Regions from separate parts of the Homo sapiens genome. Here region 2 is linked to region 1. The links come from fine-mapping of genetic effects on gene expression. A gene starts in region 1. The other region holds a variant in brackets. All regions are shown on one strand. Distances are between the middles of the regions. Region 1 holds the start of COPG2IT1 (COPG2 imprinted transcript 1). Region 2 overlaps MEST (mesoderm specific transcript).

Region 1 (10,876 bases):
TGCCTGGGAGTCATATTAGATGGGTCAGGGCATAAAGGGTGGGGTGTGGAGGTGTCAGAAGCGCAACTCTCTCATGCAGACTGGGCTTTTGGGCACGATGTGTGTTAAGGGGTAAATGGGGCAGACAATGAGGTGGTTCCAAGTGGAGAGTGCCAGGACTGTTGGGCAGGGGGAGGGAAATGCTGGTCTTATGAGTAGGAAGTGTACCTGGAAATACCAAAATACTAAATGCTAGAAATAGGAGAGTAAAGGCCAGGGAGTCAAGGTGGCCGTCCACAGCAGTGATTCTTATCTGGGGTTGAGGGGTGGGTTTCACCCGAGGGAGGGCTGGGGACATGGACCCCCAGGCAGGCCTATCCAATCATCAGAGGGGTGAGCAGTGTTCAGCTCAGAAAAAGTAAGGGAAAAAAACAATCTCTAAAAGGAACACAGATAACAGCAAAAGAAGAAACCCAGCCCAAAAGATGCTTCTGATAGGCTTCCTCGGGGTCCTGCATCCTCGGGTGAGAATCACTGGTGGACGCGGGAGGATGGAGAGCCGGACAGACATGTACAATGTGAGGGGAAGATGCACGTGCAGCGGGGCTGATGGAGGCATCAGGGTCAAGACTGTCAGGTGTGGGAACACAGTTCCCGACAGACCAGGACAAGGATGACAGCGAGCAAATGGATGTAGCCGAAAAGGCACCGGGACCATGGTGGTGGAGCTGGGATTTCCAGCGCCTCGGTCCGAGACTCGAGGACTCAGGTGGAGGAGTGAGGCCAAGATAGGGGCCCAGTGACACAGAGGAAGTGGGCTGTGCGGGTGAGAGCAGAGAGCAGGGGATCTGTTGTCACGGGGAGGGAAGGTGCAAAGGGAAATGGAGACAGTGTGGAAGGAGAGCGTCTTGAAGACATGGGCCTTAAGGAGGAGGGAGGAGGTGGGAGGAGGGTGGGACTGACAGGAGCACCCAGGAGGAGCAGAGGAGCTGGGTCTCAGGCAGGGCAGGAGAGTCAGGTTGAGACTGGGTGCATTCGTACCGGGGGGACGAGGATGGGCAGAAAGTGGGACACGAATGAGTGACAAAGACAAAACTACTCTGGTGACAGGAAGAAGGTAGGAGATTCAGAGGCAGAGGCTCCCCAGAGTGTTTTTCCACAGTGTGAAAGAAAGGATGAGAAAAGAATCAGGAAGGTTTAGGGGAGTCAGGGTTGTGGGGCCCTGGAAAGGACTCATAGCCTGGGCCACTGGGACGTGAGCTTGGACAGCAGAGCGTGTGGATTCAGTGCAGTACGTGTGACACAGAGAGGACTGCATCTGGTGGAGCAGTGGGTGCGGGGCCAGGTCAAGAAGGGAGGACACACCTGAGAACACGAATTAGGCCAGTGGCAGAATCGCAGGTGGTGCTGAGAGAACGCAGCATGGTGCAGGTGGGACAGTACCGTGCTATGCAGTAGAGGAGGAAAGCAGGAGAAACGACCAACCTGGGCCCAGGAGCTGGGAGCTGGGAGAGCAGAGGGTGAGTTTGCAGCATATGGGAGAGCAGGACAGAGGAGAGGTGTTCCCCAATGGGCAAGAAGAATGAGTTGGAGCAGGTTATGGAGGCCAGCAGCTTACAGAGGTGAGCTTGTTGAGAGGATCAGGGAATGTACTGCAGCAAGGGAGGCATGCCAAGAGCAAGAGTGTGGGTGTGAACGTAGAGAATCCTCCTTTTTGCCCAAAAGGGGCGAAGTGTTTGATGCAGGTCATGGAGGAGAAAGCATGGTGTGGGTAAGACACGGAAGGAATGAAGGAGAGGTGAGATGAGGCCACAGAAACAGGGTGTAGAGGTGTTGGCACCTTGGAAACATTGAGGACCGTGTGTCAATAAAGGGCATGGCGAGACGATGAAAGGCCAGAGGACACAACAGAGAGAGGAAACCACTGTTCCTTAGAGGCAGAACTGAGAATACAGGACGGTTAGGGGTGAACTGAGACAGCAGATGGACTCAGTACAGCAAGTTGAGGACATGGAAGCTGGCAGTGGTGTCATCAGTGGGGGCAGGGCAGGAAGGGGTCAGAGTTCAGGAAAGATTCCTGAGTCTGTGGATTGACCTGGCGGAGACAGGGCACGCAGGACTGGATGTTGAAGAGGAGGTGGAGCATGTCTGGAAGATGAAAGTGGGAGGAAACAGTGGTGCAGGAATTAAATGTGAACCTTGTGTGGAAAAAGTGAGACATTGGAGTGGAGCAGCCACATGGAGGTGGTGTGATGTGAGTGGGGTCAGGGAAGTTGATGGGAAAAGAAAGAGATTTGTGGTGCAGGAGGGGAAAGAACATCATGAAGTTGTGGGGAGCTTAGTGTCCGTACAGGGTCCGATGCAGAAAAGGGGAAGGAGGAAATCAGAGTTCCCCAAATGGGGTTTTATCAGATCTCAGGGAAGTTGGTATCATGCTTCTTATCAAGGCCAACCCATAGGATTACGGTAGGGAGGCAAAATCCCAGGCTTTTCAGAAGTGGATCCTTAGGAAAGGAAAGTAGGGGGAAGGTGCCTAAGTCACTCAGGGTAAATGGAGGAAATGGGGCATCACTGCACATTCAGACAGCACCTGCATGGAACGTACTGGCAGGTAAACCTTGGGGGCTGGGGGCCTGGGAGGGGATGGACTCATGTGTTTTGAGTCTAGTATGTGGGCAGAAAGATACTTGCAAGTGTTAGAGGGAACTAATGGAGAGAAGACAATTCCTAGTGACCACTGAGTCTGAACCTCTGTTGTCAAGGGAGCCTGAGAGGATGGAGGTGTAGCTTGCAACTGAAAATATGCACTACACCACACTTCACTACAGAGGTGCAGTGAAGTAGGAAGCGGGGGCCTTCAAACACAGGTAGCATCTTAGATTTAGTGGGAGATTAGGTCAGTAGTAAATGGGCACAGTGGGCATGCCCAGAGTTTGGATAGGATGAAGGTTTGGGTGCTGATACGGGGGCTTCATTTTTGGAAACTTTTTCCAGAGGGCAGAGAGGAGGAAAGGCAGAACAGGATGGATGGCAGGACCTGTGTAAGAAGAAGGTCTTAAATTCTAAACAAGGGTATAGTAAAGGTAGTGTGGCCAAGAGGGAAAGAAGAAATGGTGGATCCAGATAGCTTCAATGGGTACTGCAAGATCAGGTGTGATGGGCAGGGGTGCATGGGCTCACTGGGACCCTATCCAAGGTAAATGGAAATAATGGAGATGAAGAAAGGAGGAAGAGGAGGAAGTGGCGGGACTGGCTGTAGAGTTTTGTAGGAACTCACTTCATGGAACAGAAAGAGAAAAGAGGAAACAAGGCTGGAGTGGAAGAGGGGAAGGAAAAGGCAGCCTAAGGGAAGGCACTGGCCTCAATCAGTGGAAGATCTGGAGGAGCAACAGAAAACAGTTCTTGAAGAGAAGGTGGGATAGAGAGAGGATGGAAAAGTTTGAGCGGTGAAAGCAGGTCAAAGTAGTGAGCACATCCCTATGGAGAAGAGATGACTGAGTCAGATGAAGCGACAGGCCCTGGGTGGCTGAGAGAAATACTGGCCACAGACAGGCAGGTACCTTCCCTTGGCCAAGGAAGCAAAGAGAAGAAATGTGGATGCAAGGGGAAAGGCTTCAAGAAAGAATGTGGAAGTGGGACGATGAGGCAGCGCCAACAGGGGAGTCACCTACAGAAGACAGACAGGGTGGAGGGGCCCCCAGGGAAGGATGGAGGGCAGAAAGCATGGTGGAAGGGAGCTGGGCAGGACAGCCACAGGCAGGACAGCCATAGTTGGAGCGAGGTGAACGGGGAGGTCCCAGAGTAGGAACAAAGGAATGTGGAGTGCTCAGGGCAGCCTGCAAGGTTCGGCAGGGGAAGGGAAAGTGTGAAAGGGGTGGACAGCAATGGGCAGGAAGGAATGGCTGCTCTTAAAGCCTTGAACTTTGTTGCAGAAGTGTGAATCTTGGGCCAGGGTCTTTGCTATGGATGCAGTGGGGAAGGGTGGGTTGGGTGAAGGGGATGGGGTTTGGGATGGGATTTGGGTTGGGACTGACTGGGTTGGAAAGGAGGGAAGGATTGGGAGCAGTGGGGTGTGAGTGGGAGAGGAGGTAGGGAACCAGATGGGGAGAATCGAGCCAAGTTCTGGGTTGGAGGAAACTTTCTTATTTAACTGAGCTGGTGGGTTACATATCTAATGTTGCAGGTGATGAATACAGGCTGGGGTAGCCGTCTAAATCCACCGAAAGAAGTAAATGAAAGTGGTTTCTTGTAGGTCGAAAGGTCAAGGTAAATGGCTGGTTTTTAGGAAACAACTGAGAACTCGGGAAACAAAGGGGGAAGTTTCTGCAGGCCGATCTTGTAAGGGATCTGAAAAAAGGGGTGGGGATTAAGGAAAACTGACAATAGTAAGCACCCATAAGAAACAGGTTGAGGCCGAAGATACTGACACAGGGCCTAAGAGTCCTATCAGGTGGGAGGACAAGACGTATCGGGTGGGGAGGCATTAAAAGAACAAGTTTCCAATGCAGACTGGTGTTTGGGGTCAGAGGTGTGTTAAAGGGCAAATAGGGAAGGAATGAAGTGGTTCCAAGCAGAGAGTTCCAGGCCTAATGGGGGTGGGCAGACAAAAGATGAGATGTGTTAAGTGGGAAGTTAAATGGCAAGTACTAGAATGCCACCTATGGCAAGCACTAGAATGGTCTAGGTGTGAAATGAGGGAGTAATGTCAGGGAGTCAAGGTGGCCATCCATAGCAGTGATTCTTATCTGGGGTAGGGGGTGAATTTCACGTGGAGGGAGGTCTCTGGACATGGACCCCCAGGCAGGGCTATCCAATCATCTGAGGGGTGAGCAGTGTTCAGCTCAGTAAAAGTAAGGGAAAAAAAATAGCAGTCTCTAAAAGGAACATAGACAATAGCAAAAGAAGAAACCAAGCCCAAAAGATGCTTCTGATAGGCCGCCTTGGGGTCCTGCATTCTCGGGTGAGAATCACTGGTGGATGCGGGAGGATGGAGAGCCGGGCAGACACGTGGAGTGTGAGGGGAAGACGCACGTGCAGTGGGGCTGATGGAGGCATCAGGGTCAAGACTGTCAGGTGTGGGAACACAGTTCCCGACAGATCAGGACAAAGATGACAGCGAGCAGATGGATGTAGCCGAAAAGGCACCGGGTACCCTGGTGGTGGAACTGGGTTTTCCAATGCCTCGGTCCCAGACTCAAGGTGGAGGAGTGAGGCCTAGAGAAGGGCCTAGTGACACAGAGGAAGTGGGCTGTGCGGGTGAGAGCAGAGAGCAGGGGATCTGTTGTCACGGGGAGGGAAGGTGCAAAGGGAAATGGAGACAGTGTGGAAGGAGAGCGTCTTGAAGACACGGGCCTTAAGGAGGGAGGAGGTGGGAGGAGGGTGGGACTGACAGCAGCACCCAGGAGGAGCAGAGGAGCTGAGTCTCAGGCAGGGCAGGAGAGTCAGGTTGAGACTGGGTGTGTATGGGGTGGGAGATGAGGACGGGCAGAGAGCGAGACACGAGTGAGTGACAAAGACAAAATTGCTATGGTGATAGGAACAAGGTAGGAGATTCAGAGGCAGATGTTCCCCAGAGTGTTTTTACACAGTGTGAAAGAAAGGATGAGAAAAGAATCAGGAAGGTTTAGGGGAGTCAGGGTTGTGGGGCCCTGGAAAGGACTCATAGCCTGGGCCACTGGGACGTGAGCTTGGACAGCAGAGCGTGTGGATTCAGTGCAGTACGTGTGACACAGAGAGGACTGCATCTGGTGGAGCAGTGGGTGCGGGGCCAGGTCAAGAAGGGAGGACACACCTGAGAACACGAATTAGGCCAGTGGCAGAATCGCAGGTGGTGCTGAGAGAACGCAGCATGGTGCAGGTGGGACAGTACCGTGCTATGCAGTAGAGGAGGAAAGCAGGAGAAACGACCAACCTGGGCCCAGGAGCTGGGAGCTGGGAGAGCAGAGGGTGAGTTTGCAGCATATGGGAGAGCAGGACAGAGGAGAGGTGTTCCCCAATGGGCAAGAAGAATGAGTTGGAGCAGGTTATGGAGGCCAGCAGCTTACGGAGGTGAGCTTGTTGAGAGGATCAGGGAATGTACTGCAGCAAGGGAGGCATGCCAAGAGCAAGAGTGTGGGTGTGAACGTAGAGAATCCTCCTTTTTGCCCCAAAGGGGTGAAGTGTTTGATGCAGGTCATGGAGGAGAAAGCATGGTGTGGGTAAGACACGGAAGGAATGAAGGAGAGGTGAGATGAGGCCACAGAAACAGGGTGTAGAGGTGTTGGCACCTTGGAAACATTGAGGACCGTGTGTCAATAAAGGGCATGGCGAGACGATGGAAGGCCAGAGGACACAACAGAGAGAGGAAACCACTGTTCCTTAGAGGCAGAACTGAGAATACAGGACGGTTAGGGGTGAACTGAGACAGCAGATGGACTCAGTACAGCAGGTTGAGGACATGGAAGCTGGCAGTGGTGTCATCAGTGGGGGGCAGGGCAGGAAGGGGTCAGAGTTCAGGACAGATTCCTGAGTCTGTGGATTGACTTGGAGGTGGCAGGGCATGCAGGACTGGATGTTGAAGATGAAAAGGAGTTTCTGGAAGATGACAGTGGGAGGCAACACTGTGTGTAGACTGTGCAAATTTACACTGGCATACCACATGGAATGAGAGAGTCTGGCAGCCATTCTAAGGCAGTTATTGGGATGTAAATTTGATGACGGAAGTTTATGGTAAAAGAAGGGACAGGAGGCAGGTAGGAGGGGAGATAACCTTATGAATTTGTGCAGGGCTTAGCATCAGTAAAAGGGCTGACATGGAATAGGGGAAGGTGGAATGCAGAGTTCCCAAAGTGGGGGCACTGGCAAATCTCAGGGGCAAGTCAGTGGTATGTTCGGTATCATGGCTGAGTGTAGGAGCATTTTAGGGAATAGAAGTTAAATCCTAGACGACAAGCGAGTGGGGTAACAACACTTTACCTGTCATGGTAACTACTTCATTGAATAGGAAAACAGAAAAAGAAGAAACCTTATAGAGGGTGATGGTAAAGCAACCCCAACTGATATGGAAGGCAGTGTTGGCAATCACTGAAGGTCAGGATTTTGAAAGCAAACAATTAACAATGTAAAATTTGCAAGTGTGGGGGTTGGACATAGGTTACTATGTGTTTAATGTGGTCTCCAACAAAATTAGCAGAGCCAAAATGAGAAGGAAGTATTACTCTGTTTAACAAGATTGAAATTAAGGGGACAGTATACAGTTTAAACCACTTTGGGATTTAGGAATGTCAGAGTTGGTAGGGTGGGTATTGTTGCCCCTTGATCCACAGTATGGAATAATGGCAAAGAGGAAAACTATATAGAAAGAACTTGTCATTAGGGAATTTGGTGGCTTCCTTAAAGCTCCTTGAGGGAAACACTTGATGAATGCTTAGAGTCAGGAGAATAAACGGTCCCATATAGAGATAGGTTTATGAAGCGGAGTCTGAAGGATGAGCTTCATCAGCAATCCTCAGAATGTCAGTTCTACTAGCTAAGGATGCAGGTAAGTATGTTGGACACCAAGAGAACAGGAAGGAAGTGTTTTGAACACTGGAGGTGGGTCATGAGGAAGCTTATACATATTCACATTGTGAATCAATTTCAAGGACAGATGAACAAAGACTGGGCGTTACCAATAGAGCAGGGTTTTGTTTTGTTTTTCCCCTAAGGCAAAAGGCAGAAATGAGTGGGTACACCATGATTAAGTTGCATTCTGTAGAGATAGGATCATTTAAGTCAAGTCAGCAACAAAAATTAGAGACATTGAAGATGATGGGGTAGAAAAGGGGTATCAAATAGGTTAGAAAGATGGCTTGAAAGGAAATGAGGGAAATTTCAGTGAGTTTGAGGAATGGCAGACTGGGTATGTGACAAATGAGTGGGTAAATAAGGAAATCTCAGACTGAGAATCCTGGCAGATCTTTCAATGGGTTAGACTGCAGGAATATTGATTTTAAAGCCAGACTGAAGCAAATTCTAGTGATAAAGGAAGGGGAAAGGGTGGCTGAATCAAATGTTCTACCAATACTGCTTTTTTTAGTATTTGAGTTAAAATTCAGATTAAATGCTTGGCTTAGAAGAATGCAAAGCTTCACTGAGCCTAATAATATGGATCCCAGTGGGTGAGTGGAGGTGAGTTAAAGTAAAAAACTCTGAGGCAAATCTTACTTAACTGAAGTTGTGTTTTTAGTACAGAATGCCAAGTTAATATGGTTAATACTGAACAAAAAATAATGGAAGGGCAACTACAGTAGCTTAAGATGGCACTTTAAGGAAGTGTAGGCAGAAAGTCAAGAAATTAAAATAATTATGAATCATTATATGGCAGGCAATATTTCCAATGAAAATCAGAGAAAATAAACTCACATACATGTACTGTTACAGCTGATCTTAGTATGAATATTTTCTATTAAAGACTGTTTTAAAATAAGTTATTAATATTTGTTGAAATGGTTCCAGATAACAAGAAATATGATGCAATAAAACCTGATAAATAAAAGCAATATAAAGATTAGAATGGTTTTGAATAGGTAGTGGAATAAAAAGTTAAGTTGGTAGTTGCATTAAAAAGGTCAAACATGGGGAATAATTGGTAGAATGTTGTGTATATAATATATATTGTTACGGGTGCAATAAATATTCAGGGGAAACAGAGCTGCTGAAAGAGAATGAATGCTTAGAAGGAATGTTGCCTTAAAGGCTTTTCTAAAACTTTTTAGGTAAAGGACAAATTCTGGGAGGACGAAAGATAATAAGTAGGACTAGTTACATAGAGACTTAGGATGTCCATAGTCTTTCAAGAAATTGCCCAACCTTTGCGAGAAGGTGTTATGGTAATATATTGATGTTGGGTTAAAGCAAATTTTTTCAGATAGGGTAGATTTTTATACATTTATAAAGTAAAGGGGAGTAGGAAAGATTAAAGATAGATCAAAGAAAGGAATAATTGATGGAACAACTTTCTGGAAGAGATTAGAGGGTATGTGTCTTTTGAACTCTGGAAGACTTGATTTTAGAGAGGATAAAGGAAGAAAGTGGATAATTCTAGAATTAAACACCAAAAGGTTCTATGTGTCTGGCACCATGTGAAGCAACTTACCTATTATTTCATTTCATTTCATTTCATTTCATTTCATTTCATCCTATAACAGTCCTAAGAGATCAAATAATTTGTCCACGATTACACAGTCAGTATGTAGCAGGGCCAGCATTCAAATCCTCATCTGTCTATCAAACCCATATTCCCTTCTATTATGCTATACTGTTTTCAAGTTGAAGGAAATCAAACCAAGAATTTCTGTTTTTTCACTGCGATTATAAGGAAAAATATTATTTTTCTGAAATGAGACATATTGATGTTTAAGACCTTGAGGTGACAGGTAAAATTTGGAATATCTGTGATGGGAAAATGCAAAAAGGAAGGAATGGGTGAAAGATACCTATTACCATCTATGCCCTGGTATTTCACTTCTTCCATTGCACAGCATAGACTTTAGATTGGCCATGGATTAAAAATTTGAGAATTCTGACAAAAAACTAAATAGAAAGGAGTTTGTTTTTTAAGTAGGTATATGATGGGTCAAATATAAACTTACTACTAACAAAACTTTAAACAATTCCCTAAATGCCAAACTTTTATAAACAAAAATCAAACAAACCATCAAGCAAAAGAGTCCATAGCCAGCAGACCAAATGTTGAAATCTCTGGGCTAATTTGTAAGATCTATGTTTTAAAACTCCTTAGTGAAGAGGGGCAAGAAAACCTCTCCTCTTTTTCCTCTCTTGGTGGAAATGTTTTGTTGTTGTTGTTGGTTTTTTCCTATACTATATGTAATTTCTATATTGTTGTTTTGTGTATTTTGGTATTATAAAATTATACTTCTTAGATTCCGTTAAGAATACTTTCTGGGGTGTGAGCCACCTGAGTTATTAGTTAGCAAAATGAACCTGGGGAAGTGGGAAGAGCTAGTATTCTCAATTGGCAAGGGATTGATTCTTCAATGGGTTCAGCATTTCACTTCCCTCTGAAATTAAGTGGCAAAGTAATAGCATCCCTTAAAAAACAGGACATTGGTGAGAGGTAGAATAGCAGGAGGAATTTTGAAACATGGAGGGATGGCTACTGGAAAAGAACTGATGAAGTGCAGAGTCTCTCCAGACAATGGTAGAAACCACAGGACTACATTAAGATTGGGCCCAAATACTAGTTTAGAAAAAGGTAAATAAAACTAGCTTTACTTAAGAGTACAGCCAGCTTAATTACTGGCTAGTGGACATATTTCAGACAAATCTAACTGGAGAGAAAAACAGACCAGGAGAGAAAGCGAAGTTACAAGGAAATGGAACTAGAGAAACCTCACAAAGGGATAAAGGAGGTAATTAAAGGTTAAAGCCAGATAGCCTCGAGCTCAAAGGAGAAATATTGGAGGCCAGATAGGAAAGTGCCTTCCTACTCAGGGGGTTATGGATCCAGGGTGGCTAAAGAATAGAAGTAGAGTTCCACCCAGGGCCAGAGGGAACAATCTGGGATTCAGACACAGCAGTGGTGCCAACGTGAATCTACCTCGTGCTAGAGTCTGAGTAGCCTAGTCTATCACCCAACACAGATAAGACTGGACAGGGGCTCCCAGGAACCAACATCTAAGAAGGGAGTTTGGAGAGGGGCTAAAAGAAAGCAGGTTAAGCCCCAAATGTAACTGAATGATGACCAGGGATAACTATTTACTAGTGCTTTTATGATTTATTGTAACTCTGTAACTTTCCCAGTATTTGTTAATTTTTTAACTTCTGTTTCTCCTGTACTTACGAGCAGTAAAAGTTGTTCAAAACATAAATGTGATGTGTGTGCTTATTTCTGTGAAAACTGGGTAACAGTTACGAA
Region 2 (10,876 bases), 32 kb before region 1:
GCTGGCTGTTCATCCAGGAAACAATAAAAAGATTGAGTTGAGGAATCTTATTCTAACATAATTGTAGTATCAAGACATTCAGTTATACGTTCTCTTGATTTATACATAGTCTGTTTTCACTGTCATGACTGCTACATATTCCTTGGTGTACAAAAAGCTCTCATGTGAGTCAAAGGTTGAAAGTGGATATACCTACAAAGTGTTTGTTTGTTTTAGTCTGATTGTAAAGCCAATTCATTGGTTTAGGCTGAGCAGATGGCAAGGAGAGATTGAGAAGAGCTCATTGTGGAAAAGTGCCTTCTCATTGGTTGCTATTCTCTCTAGGTACTTACTTGGAAGGTATCAGAATATGAAATCTTGATTATGTCACATAAGAATGTTCCATACCTTCCTGTGGCCTACTGGATACAAGCTAGTAGTAAACAGCTTGCATATAATTTTAAATAAAATACCCCCTCTCTCATCTCCTCCTGGGATTAAGGGAAGATCCTTGGTTATCTCTGCTTGGGCAGTGAGTTGCTGTGTGATCCACTTGTTTGATGCTTCATCCTTCTCTAAGGAGCTGAAAGTCATCTTGCTTTGACAATTGTTGCAAAAGTGTTATATTTTCAAGTTGTTGTTTGTTGGATTATGAACATTTAAAAACTAGTTTGTATAAATGGAATTGGCAAGTTTATCTGCCTAAGATACAATTTCAGAGTAGAAGGTGAATAAGCTCTTTGGTGGCTCCTTCCAGTGTGGTGTGTCCACAGGGTCATTTACTGGGGCTTCCCACTGGCTTACATCCCTCCCGCTCCAGCCTCAAGTTCACCTGCGTGCTGTTCTCTTCCACTAGGAAAACGCTGCCGCGGTCCACAGTGTCGATTCTGGATGACCACATTAGCCACTATCCACAGCTAGAGGATCCCATGGGCTTCTTGAATGCATATATGGGCTTCATCAACTCCTTCTGAGCTGGAAAGAGTAGCTTCCCTGTATTACCTCCCCTACTCCCTTATGTGTTGTGTATTCCACTTAGGAAGAAATGCCCAAAAGAGGTCCTGGCCATCAAACATAATTCTCTCACAAAGTCCACTTTACTCAAATTGGTGAACAGTGTATAGGAAGAAGCCAGCAGGAGCTCTGACTAAGGTTGACATAATAGTCCACCTCCCATTACTTTGATATCTGATCAAATGTATAGACTTGGCTTTGTTTTTTGTGCTATTAGGAAATTCTGATGAGCATTACTATTCACTGATGCAGAAAGACGTTCTTTTGCATAAAAGACTTTTTTTTAACACTTTGGACTTCTCTGAAATATTTAGAAGTGCTAATTTCTGGCCCACCCCCAACAGGAATTCTATAGTAAGGAGGAGGAGAAGGGGGGCTCCTTCCCTCTCCTCGAATGACGTTATGGGCACATGCCTTTTAAAAGTTCTTTAAGCAACACAGAGCTGAGTCCTCTTTGTCATACCTTTGGATTTAGTGTTTCATCAGCTGTTTTTAGTTATAAACATTTTGTTAAAATAGATATTGGTTTAAATGATACAGTATTTTAGGTATGATTTAAGACTATGATTTACCTATACATTATATATATTTTATAAAGATACTAAACCAGCATACCCTTACTCTGCCAGAGTAGTGAAGCTAATTAAACACATTTGGTTTCTGAATAAATTGAACTAAATCCAAACTATTTCCTAAAATCACAGGACATTAAGGACCAATAGCATCTGTGCCAGAGATGTACTGTTATTAGCTGGGAAGACCAATTCTAACAGCAAATAACAGTCTGAGACTCCTCATACCTCAGTGGTTAGAAGCATGTCTCTCTTGAGCTACAGTAGAGGGGAAGGGATTGTTGTGTAGTCAAGTCACCATGCTGAATGTACACTGATTCCTTTATGATGACTGCTTAACTCCCCACTGCCTGTCCCAGAGAGGCTTTCCAATGTAGCTCAGTAATTCCTGTTACTTTACAGACAGGAAAGTTCCAGAAACTTTAAGAACAAACTCTGAAAGACCTATGAGCAAATGGTGCTGAATACTTTTTTTTTAAAGCCACATTTCATTGTCTTAGTCAAAGCAGGATTATTAAGTGATTATTTAAAATTCGTTTTTTTAAATTAGCAACTTCAAGTATAACAACTTTGAAACTGGAATAAGTGTTTATTTTCTATTAATAAAAATGAATTGTGACAAAAGTGGACTCTGGCTTCCCCTCCCCCCTCCCCCCCACCCCTCTGGGATAAAAATTTTCCAGCATTGCCAGGAGCTTTCAGGTACACATTAAAGAATAAAATGAAGTTAAGCAGCTGGAGTATAGGATAGTATTTGATTTTCAAGATCACCCAAAGCTGCACTATCGTCCCAAAGCTGACCAAGTAGAATAAAAAGAAAAAAAAAAAAAAACAACCCATGCGCAAAGATAGACATTTGCTTGATCTGCTGGCTCAGGGCCAAATGTTTAATTTGCTTCTCCAAAGTCATTCATCTTCAAAAGTCTGATTCTGGGAAACTGATGCCACTAGCCTAAAAGCCCACTGACCATGTAGTGTGCATCAGTTTCCTCTTGTCCAGTAAGCATTTATCCAACAGAAGCTAAGATAACATCTACAGGTGTTCTCTCTTTACTTCTGACAGTCACCTGCATGGTCACTCCATCGGCTAAGGCCAGCCTGGACCTCACCAATAAATCATAGCCACCTCTGAATATACCTGAGAGAAAAAAGTAAGGAAAACCATATTAAGAACCCAAAACAAGCACTGGATAATGAAATTTATCATGCTATCCCTGCATCTCCTTTCTATTAGTTTAGTTTAGCTTTTCCAGAGACTTGTGGAAACTGAATCCTAAACAAACATAAATTCCAAATATATATATTTTTATATTCCCATGAAACCAGGTACATAGAAGGTATTCAAAAATACCAATTTGGAGTACTCAAAAGGAATGTTGGTGGTGGCCTTGGTATCTGTTGGAGAGATTTGTTTTGGGCCAAATGTACATCTTAAAAGAATAACCAAGAATAGCATGCAAAACAAATTATTCATTTTGACTGGGTATCAAATTGTTACTCATATAATGGGATGATGGGACAACAGCAAGGCATAAGATGCCCATCTATATCCTATTATTAAGCTTTGCAAGAAAATGGAAGGAAAATCTGATGGAAGCTTCTTACCTGCCAGATAGAGCGAATGGGAATTCTTGTTCTCAGGTACTTTATCGGACCTCTCACATGGCTGCATGCCCAGAAATGTGATGATATTGTTGACAGCCTCTGTGTTGAGAAGATGTATGAGACAGTATTAGGAAAGTAAAGCACAGGGATCTCCCTCTGCACCAGTGTATGCTGGGAGCTGGGGTGGAAGGGTTTGTTGGTGAAGGGGGTTGTTGGTGATGTGTAGAGGGAGGCTACTACTGGACTAGAAAATGGCTGATCAATTAGATGATGAAGACAGGGTGCTGGCCTTTTAAGTAAGAGATTTATGAAGTTTTTTTTTTTTTAAAGGAGTTCTTCTGGAGTAACAAATATGCCTGTTAGGTGTTATACTGTTATCAGGCAATATACTGATAGCAAAATGGGTCTCACCTTCAAGGGTTTTGGTAGAACTGAGGGCAAAGGTTTCCTCTTTCTCAAAGGTATCTCCCACCTCTTCCCAAGCAGCAGCAAAGTTAGGCTTCAGTACTTTCTGAATATGGTCAGACACAGTCACTTCGAGATCTTCCAGCTAGTGGGTAATAAGCAGTCAGTAAAGAAAAGTCCTTTCTGTTATAGGGCAAAGATAAAGGAACTAGTCAATATGGTCCTCCGGAGCCTAGAGAAAACTCTACCACCAAAATAGTTTAAGTTCTGTAGTCTGGATAAATCTAATGTTGTAGCCCTTAGCAAAGGAAAGCAAGAAAACAGAACATCTGGCAAGAGCCTCAGATCAACATCTGTAGCCCTGAGGTACAGAGTAGTCATGTTGCACCCACACTTGACCACTGAGTTCTGGGCACACGGTACCCTCTGATCATTCACTAAGAGGTTGATATTTTTTAAAAAAAGTTTTCCCTCCATTCTGTGAAGGCTTTTTAATCCATGATCTGGCTATAAACTAACAGCTGCTGAAGCAAAAACAAAAAACCAAAAAACAAAACCAACCCCCTCCCCAAATCATTTTAAATAAAACTGATCTCAATGAAAATCATGTCATTATTTTCATCTCTTAATTATCCCTATTATAAAGAAAAAAAAGGGTGAGTTTGTTTTAATGATGAAGTGGTAAATCTCAATTCTCTCTGGCCTGGTGCTGTCCAGTTACAGAGGAGGGTTAGTCCAGGTCCTCCTAATTTGTCATCTGTTTCAGAAGAATAGAAATCCCTTAAGTTTATGTCAGATGCTCCTAGAAAAATGTTCTCTCAAGGCAGAAGTCACTTAGTGTTGTGAAGGTGTCAAAGAAAGTCTCTATGCTGGGAAGACTCACCACATACTCATCATCATACCCATCCTCATCTGGAACTCCAGTGTTAGGGTCACAGTCCCGGACTGTAAACTTCATGGTGCAGCTAAAGGAGCCTGCAACTGGAGGAGAAGGGAGGCAAACCTGCATCAGTGGGGAGTGCAAGGGAGACGTTTCCATCATTCCATCTGTACTCAGCACTGTGTTCCACATTTTCCAGTTAAACACACATGCCCTGTTGTCTGGGGTAGTGGTTCTCAAAAGCAGCCTACAAGCGGGTCAGGAAGGCAGTCTCACAAAGCATGAATGTAAAGTCTATTCCACGCTGTGGGTTACAGCAGTACAGAAATGATAACATGGGCAGACTGTTTCTCTATTGGTATGAAGAAAGCAGCAGAGAGGTACTTTTGGGGGCTTTTTGCCATGCCTATCAAAGGGGCCTAAATGTTGAAAAATAAATATTTTGAGAACCACTGCTGTAGGACCTGACCAAAAAAAAAAACAAAAAAAAAACCTGTGGTAAAAAGCATACAGATCATCAGATTAACATTGACCAATCTCATCAGCATCTCAATACTATCTTTAGATTGTGGACTGATGGCGGG[T/G]CCACAGATCACCAGAGAGAACTTGCTTTATCTGTCAACCTTCAGCCTAAAGTGAGTAGGTCAGTAATGAGTTTCTAGTATTGGTAAAGTCAGTGTCTTAAATGGAAAAGCAAGTGGGCAGTTGTATGTTTTCACACAAGTGGTGTTAAGTAATAAGAAATGGAGGTGGGGGTACATTTTTGGAAAGTGAAGTCTTTATAAAAAGTAAAGACAGTATTTTCTGAAATGTTTGAAGGAGGGGATTTAGCAAGCAGGGATGAAGAAAAGGCATTTAGGATCTTGTCTATGGTCTGGAAAAAGCTTATAGGTACAAAAAATATTAGATATTGGGAGAGTTAAAAAGTTATTTGGGGGATAGGCAAGGAGAGGAAAGAACAGGCTCAGATGTGAAGACCATATACGACAGATTGGGTAATAAGACTTTCATCTGCTCAGTCTTGACTTTAAATTCCATCCATTCATCCATCCACACATGTAGTGACTGTCAATACATGTTGACATTACACGTAAAGGTATAAGCTTATGTGCCAGACACTTGGATAAAAAGATGACTGAGACATGATCTCTGTCTCTAGGAGCTGTCTAGGAGTTAAATAAGTGTGTGGGCTGTGTGTGTGTGTGATCTATCTATGACTTTACAACTCAATGCCATAGATCCTTTAAGTTTTAAGAGAGTGCCATGTGAGGGTGCGGGATTAACAAATAGCCTGGGAAAACTGTAAAAAATGTGAAACGATATAATAGTTTAACTGGCTCTCAAAAGATGCAAAAGAGCTTTGGCAAGCAGAGGAAGATGTACAAACAGGCAAAAGGAAAGAGGCCAGAAAGTCCACCGGGCAGCTGGAAACAGTAAGAGGCATGCTAATGCCTAGGTGCTGAGAAGATAATTTGTTTAGGAATAAATTGTAAAATACCTTGTATTTCAAATGATTTTCCAACAGGCTCTGGTGAGCTGAGGCAGTCAAGAGATTGAAAGGTTAGAGATAAGCTAGATAAGGTGCCTAATTTAAGCCACTGGTGGGGACTATGAAGAATGGGTCTGAATTCAGAGAGCAGATGGATTCAACAGAATATGCTGAAAACAGACGATGGCAGTGGGTTTTCCCATATAGGAAAGAATGAACCTATCAAGCCTGCAGAATCAATTTCAATGCCATTAGGGGTTGAGAAAAGAACGACTGTGGTTTAATTAGGATAGGATTTTCTTCAGAGAGAAGGGGAAAGAAGTGAAAGTTAACACAAGGCCAGAACAGGTCAGGTGAGGCATTTTTTTTAAACCATGAAAGAGATACAGAATATGGTAGGGGAAAAGGTCATGATCAAGTTAGAATGAAGAGTCAGGAGAGACATTAATTATAGCAACCCAGTGTGGTTCCAATTAAGCAGAGAGGCTACAGCAAATGAGGAGGACAAAGAGACAACATCAGGTATGAAGGCAGATCACAGACTGGGCACAGGGGCTGAGTTTTATGTGGAGGTAAAGACAGAAGACACTTACATATAAGGACCTGATACAGAGAAAGAGATTAAGGAAGTAAATAGGAATGGTGTTAGTAGAGATAATGTTCCTGAAACCTTAGTGGGAATTTTTTTACTTAAATGGTTTGATTGATACAATGAGAGGTTACAGGGATCTAAGGAAGTCTAGGCAGTAATCTGTCGAAGCTGCTGGAGAGGATGACGAAATGGGGCGAGGAGGCAAGATGCGGGGGCCTTTCCATGGCAAGAAAATACTGAATGCACTGCCATAATGTAAATATGAGAGTTACACAGACAAAGCAAGGCAAATACCAAAGAGAATCAGGAAAGAATGCCCTGAAGATCTGCATTAAAACTGTTCTCTGAAATTAAGCTTGTCTTGTGAGGATTCACTGAAAATGAGAGTCAACCACTAAGGAGATTTGTATGAAAAGAACCCAGCGAATTAGAGAAAAGATAGATGCTGGCAGCTAAGACAGGAGAGGGACATGTGAGTTGGGCCAGGGTACAGAAAATGCAGTGTGGCAAAGGGCAGAGTGGGAAAGGTGGGAGGGAGCTGCCAGGTCTCAACCACCTGGGGGAGACCATGACAAAGTAAGAGACACTTATGAGGTATTTCCAGAAAGCTTTGTTAGAATAATAATTAAAGAAAAGGGTATGTCACTAGGGCAAAAGATTAGAAAGAAGGCAAAAGAGATGGATCTGTACAGGCTAACTGCAGCAGTCTATGCAGGTCTGGACTGAACTGAGAAGCAATGGGTGCAGCATAGTGTGTAGGACATCGAGGAAAGCTGGGCAGTGAGTGCCAAAATAAGCAATACACACCTACCTGGAAAATCGTGTTGAGTCTGTGGGAATGCTGTACAAATGGTGGGAGGGAGTTTTTCTCTAGGACAAATTCAGAAAGGGAAGGAGGAATGGTACTGGAAAGCAACATTAGAGTTGTCCTCAGATGAAAAGGAGTTGGTCACTAAGGAATGACACACATCAACAGGAAGGTAAGACAGCATTGCTGGGCCAAAAGTCATAAGAGAGTATGAAATAAGAGACTGGAAGCAAAGGAAAGAAAATATTACATAAGGAAGGGCCTACTGGCAGAGCAGGTGTGGAATAAAGATTTAGAATGGGGTATCCTGTCTAGGTCTAAATGGTCGGCTGCATGGGAAATACACAGAAAGGGTTAAGGAGCAAGGAATTCAGTAGGAGGCAGCAGCAGACTAGCTCTTAAAGCTTTTGAGGGAATGGCTAATTAAAGGACTTGCTTGATAGGAAAGTTATAAACTGATGAATGCTGATAAAAAGCTATAGATGGGCCGGGTGCAGTGGCTCACGCCTGTAATCCCAGCACTTTGGGAGGCTGAGGCAGGTGGATCACCTGAGGTTGGGAGTTCAAGACTAGCCTGGCCAACATGGTGAAACACTGTGTCTTCTAAAAAAAAAAAAAAAAAAAAAAAAATACAAAATTAGCCGGGCGTGGTGGCCCATGCTTGTAATCCCAGCTACTTGGGAGGCTGAGGTAGGAGAATCACTTGAACCCAGGAGGCAGAGGTTGTGGTAAGCCGAGTTGGTGAGCCTTGTTAACTCTCCTTGTTAATACACAACTCTCCTTGTTAATATACAACTCTGACAATTTAACATGAGCCAAGCCCCATTGCACTCCAGCCTGGGCAACAAGAGCAAAACTCCATCTAAAAAAAAAAAACAAAAAACAACAAAAAAGCTATAGATGGCAACTTTAGAAATATTAGGCTTGATTTATTAAGAGAGTGTGAACATGTAGTTTGTCCAGAGAATGGATTATTGCTACTAGATGGGGAATGGGTGATTATGAAGAGTGAAGTAAAAAAGTCTATATCTATTTCTGTAGAGATGGTAAGGCCGGGTGCAGTGGCTCACACTTGTAATTCCAGCATTTTGGGAGGCTGAGGCTGGCAGATCACTTGAGGTCAGGAGTTTGAGACCAGCCTGGCCAAGATGGTGAAACCCCGTCTCTACTAAAAATTTTTGTAAAAATACAAAAATTAGCTGGGCGTAGTGGCACATGCCTGTAATCCTGGAGGTTTCAGTGAGCCAAAATCACGCCACTGCACTCTAACCTGGGTGACAGAGTGAGTTTCCGTCTCAAAAAAAGAAAAAAGAGAGAGATGGCAAGTGAAAGGATGACTGACAGTTAAGATATCGTAGACTATTGCACAGTGTTCCACTGAAGTTGCCTAGAAGTTACTCTGCTATGTGAGGATTGGCTAAAAGTGACAGACATTTCCTAGGGAAACATGAATGAAAATATCACAGGGGAAGAGAAAGAGAAGATGGAGGCTGGAAGCTAAAAGATGAAAAGATGTAGGATTTAGGCTGGAGTGTGGAATATAAAGTGTGGGTAGGGGCTGGGCACGGTGGCTCATGCCTGTAATCCCAGCACTTCAGGGGACTGAGACAGGTGGATCATTTGAGGTCAGGAGTTTGATACCAGCCTCGCCAACATGGTGAAACCCCATCTCTACTAAAAATGCAAAAAGTAGCTGGGCGTGGTGGCAGGTGCCTGTGATCCCAGCTACTTGGGAGGCTGAGGCAGTAGAATCACTTGAGCCCGGGAGGTGGAGGATGCAGTGAGCCGAGATCAGGCCACACTGCACTCCAGCCTGGGTGACAAGAGTGAAATAATTCTGTCTAAAAAAAAAAAAAAAAAAATATATATATATATATATATATATATATATATATGTGTGTGTGTGTGTGTGTATATATATATATATATGTGTGTGTGTGTGTATATATATATATACACATATACATATATATGTATGGGTAGGGAAGGGCATTAAAGAGGGCCAGAATGAGGAACACCAGAAGATGGCAGAGCTGCATATGCAGTAGAGAGATGTGAGTTAAGCTGGGTTACAACCAAAGAAGGAAAGAGAATACAAAGAGTAAGTAGATAAATAAGAACTGGTGTCATGAGGAAGTGCCATCTGGGAATCTTTGCTTGAATGATGTTTGAAGCAACAAGTGTGACCAATAGAGTGAAAGGTCAAGGAGTTTAAATGGAATGGATTCTTGCCATAGGCAGTGGCAGGAACCCTATGAAGGTCTGGAATGAACTGAAAGTGCAAGTGTTTTCAGAGTAGTGTGGAGGTGACGAGGAAGAAAAGACTAAATTCATGAGAATGATACACAAGATGATAGCTGAAAAAACAAGTGACTAACAGTTGTTCTACTAGGGTCAACTGGGGAAAATAGTGGAAGAGCCTGCAGAAGAGACGGAGTCATTTGAAGATTGGCAGGTATTGACTGGAGGGATACGGCCCCATAAGTGTAAGATTAAATAAGGAGAGACTGGAAACTGTGTAAAGGGAGAACTATACAAAGAGTAGGTAAGCGTAGGTGGAGTGGCATGGACAGGTAAAATGAGGAAAGTGTTTCCCAGAATGGGAAATCTTGTAAACCCTTAAAAAATGTGGGTTTATTCAGTCAAATGTTGGCTCTTAATTGCAGACTTTGAAAAGCAGTAGATACAATGGAAGAAGAACAAGTGCTTGAAAAGTAATGCGAAGCTTTTGTGAGAAGTTTAATGAGAAGGATTAGAAGGAGATGGATTAAGATGAGCCCTAATAGGGCAGCACTTAAAGACACCAGGATAGATCTTTGAGTAGTTTGTAGAATGGATGACTAATATTGGAAGAGGAGTGGCTGGAGATCATGTTGGAAACCCATCTCAAGGGTGAAACTTCTTTGTTTCCAGGTACAGATGGTAGATGAAATTTTACTCTATATAATTAAGGGAGGGCAAATCACCAAAGGGGAGAAACAAATGAATATCATGTAAGTGCGGTATTAAAGTTACTCTTAGAAGTTACTCTGTCATGTGAAGATTTTCTACAGATGAGAGACAGACACTAGAGAGAATTTGGCTAGGAAGTGCCATTCAGGAGGAGACAGAGTCCATCTGAATGAAATATGGACAGCAGCTAAAAGAAGGGAGGCTGAAGATAAGGTAGCGTACATCTTTAGGGCAAGATAGGTAACAAGGAGAAAAGGAATAGGAGAAAACATTAAAGTTGACTCCAGATGAAAAGGTCATTTGAAGAATGGCAGGACTGACTGGAGAGACAGTCCCATATTTGGGCCAAAAGACATGAAGAGGGGTTAAAGCTAAGGGGAGCATTAAATAAACTAGATAATGATTCTGAAAAGGTGGCGTGGTAATAAGAAAGACCACAGCGCCATAAAGATGCCTGGAGAATCCTGCCAGATCTCAGAATGGGCCCAACTGGCCAAATTCAGTGGGTGTAAGGCCAGATTGCAGTGACTAGTATATGGGAGAGAAGGAAAGACCTGAATAGGAATGAGTCAGTAGACTC

What was found. PIP is the estimated chance that this variant, and not a neighbour inherited with it, causes the effect.
Region 2: its variant is fine-mapped to the expression of COPG2IT1 in testis (GTEx, PIP above 0.99).

Annotation. Positions count from the first base shown.
Region 1 is chr7:130,536,072-130,546,947 of GRCh38, forward strand. COPG2IT1 (COPG2 imprinted transcript 1) reads left to right here and starts at 7,382. Exons shown (of 1, transcript NR_024086.2): 1 at 7,382-10,829. All of the region lies in intron 20 of COPG2 (coat protein complex I subunit gamma 2), which reads right to left.
Region 2 is chr7:130,504,104-130,514,979 of GRCh38, forward strand. It overlaps MEST (mesoderm specific transcript), which reads left to right. Exons shown (of 12, transcript NM_002402.4): 12 at 836-2,362. The coding sequence ends at 953. COPG2 (coat protein complex I subunit gamma 2) reads right to left here. Exons shown (of 24, transcript NM_012133.6): 21 at 4,459-4,556; 22 at 3,582-3,720; 23 at 3,171-3,269; 24 at 2,135-2,703. The coding sequence ends at 2,573. Among named protein-coding and RNA genes, the nearest start is that of MIR335, 13 kb to the left of the region's middle. RefSeq lists an enhancer at 1-1,147. The variant T/G (reference allele first, on the strand shown) is at 5,040.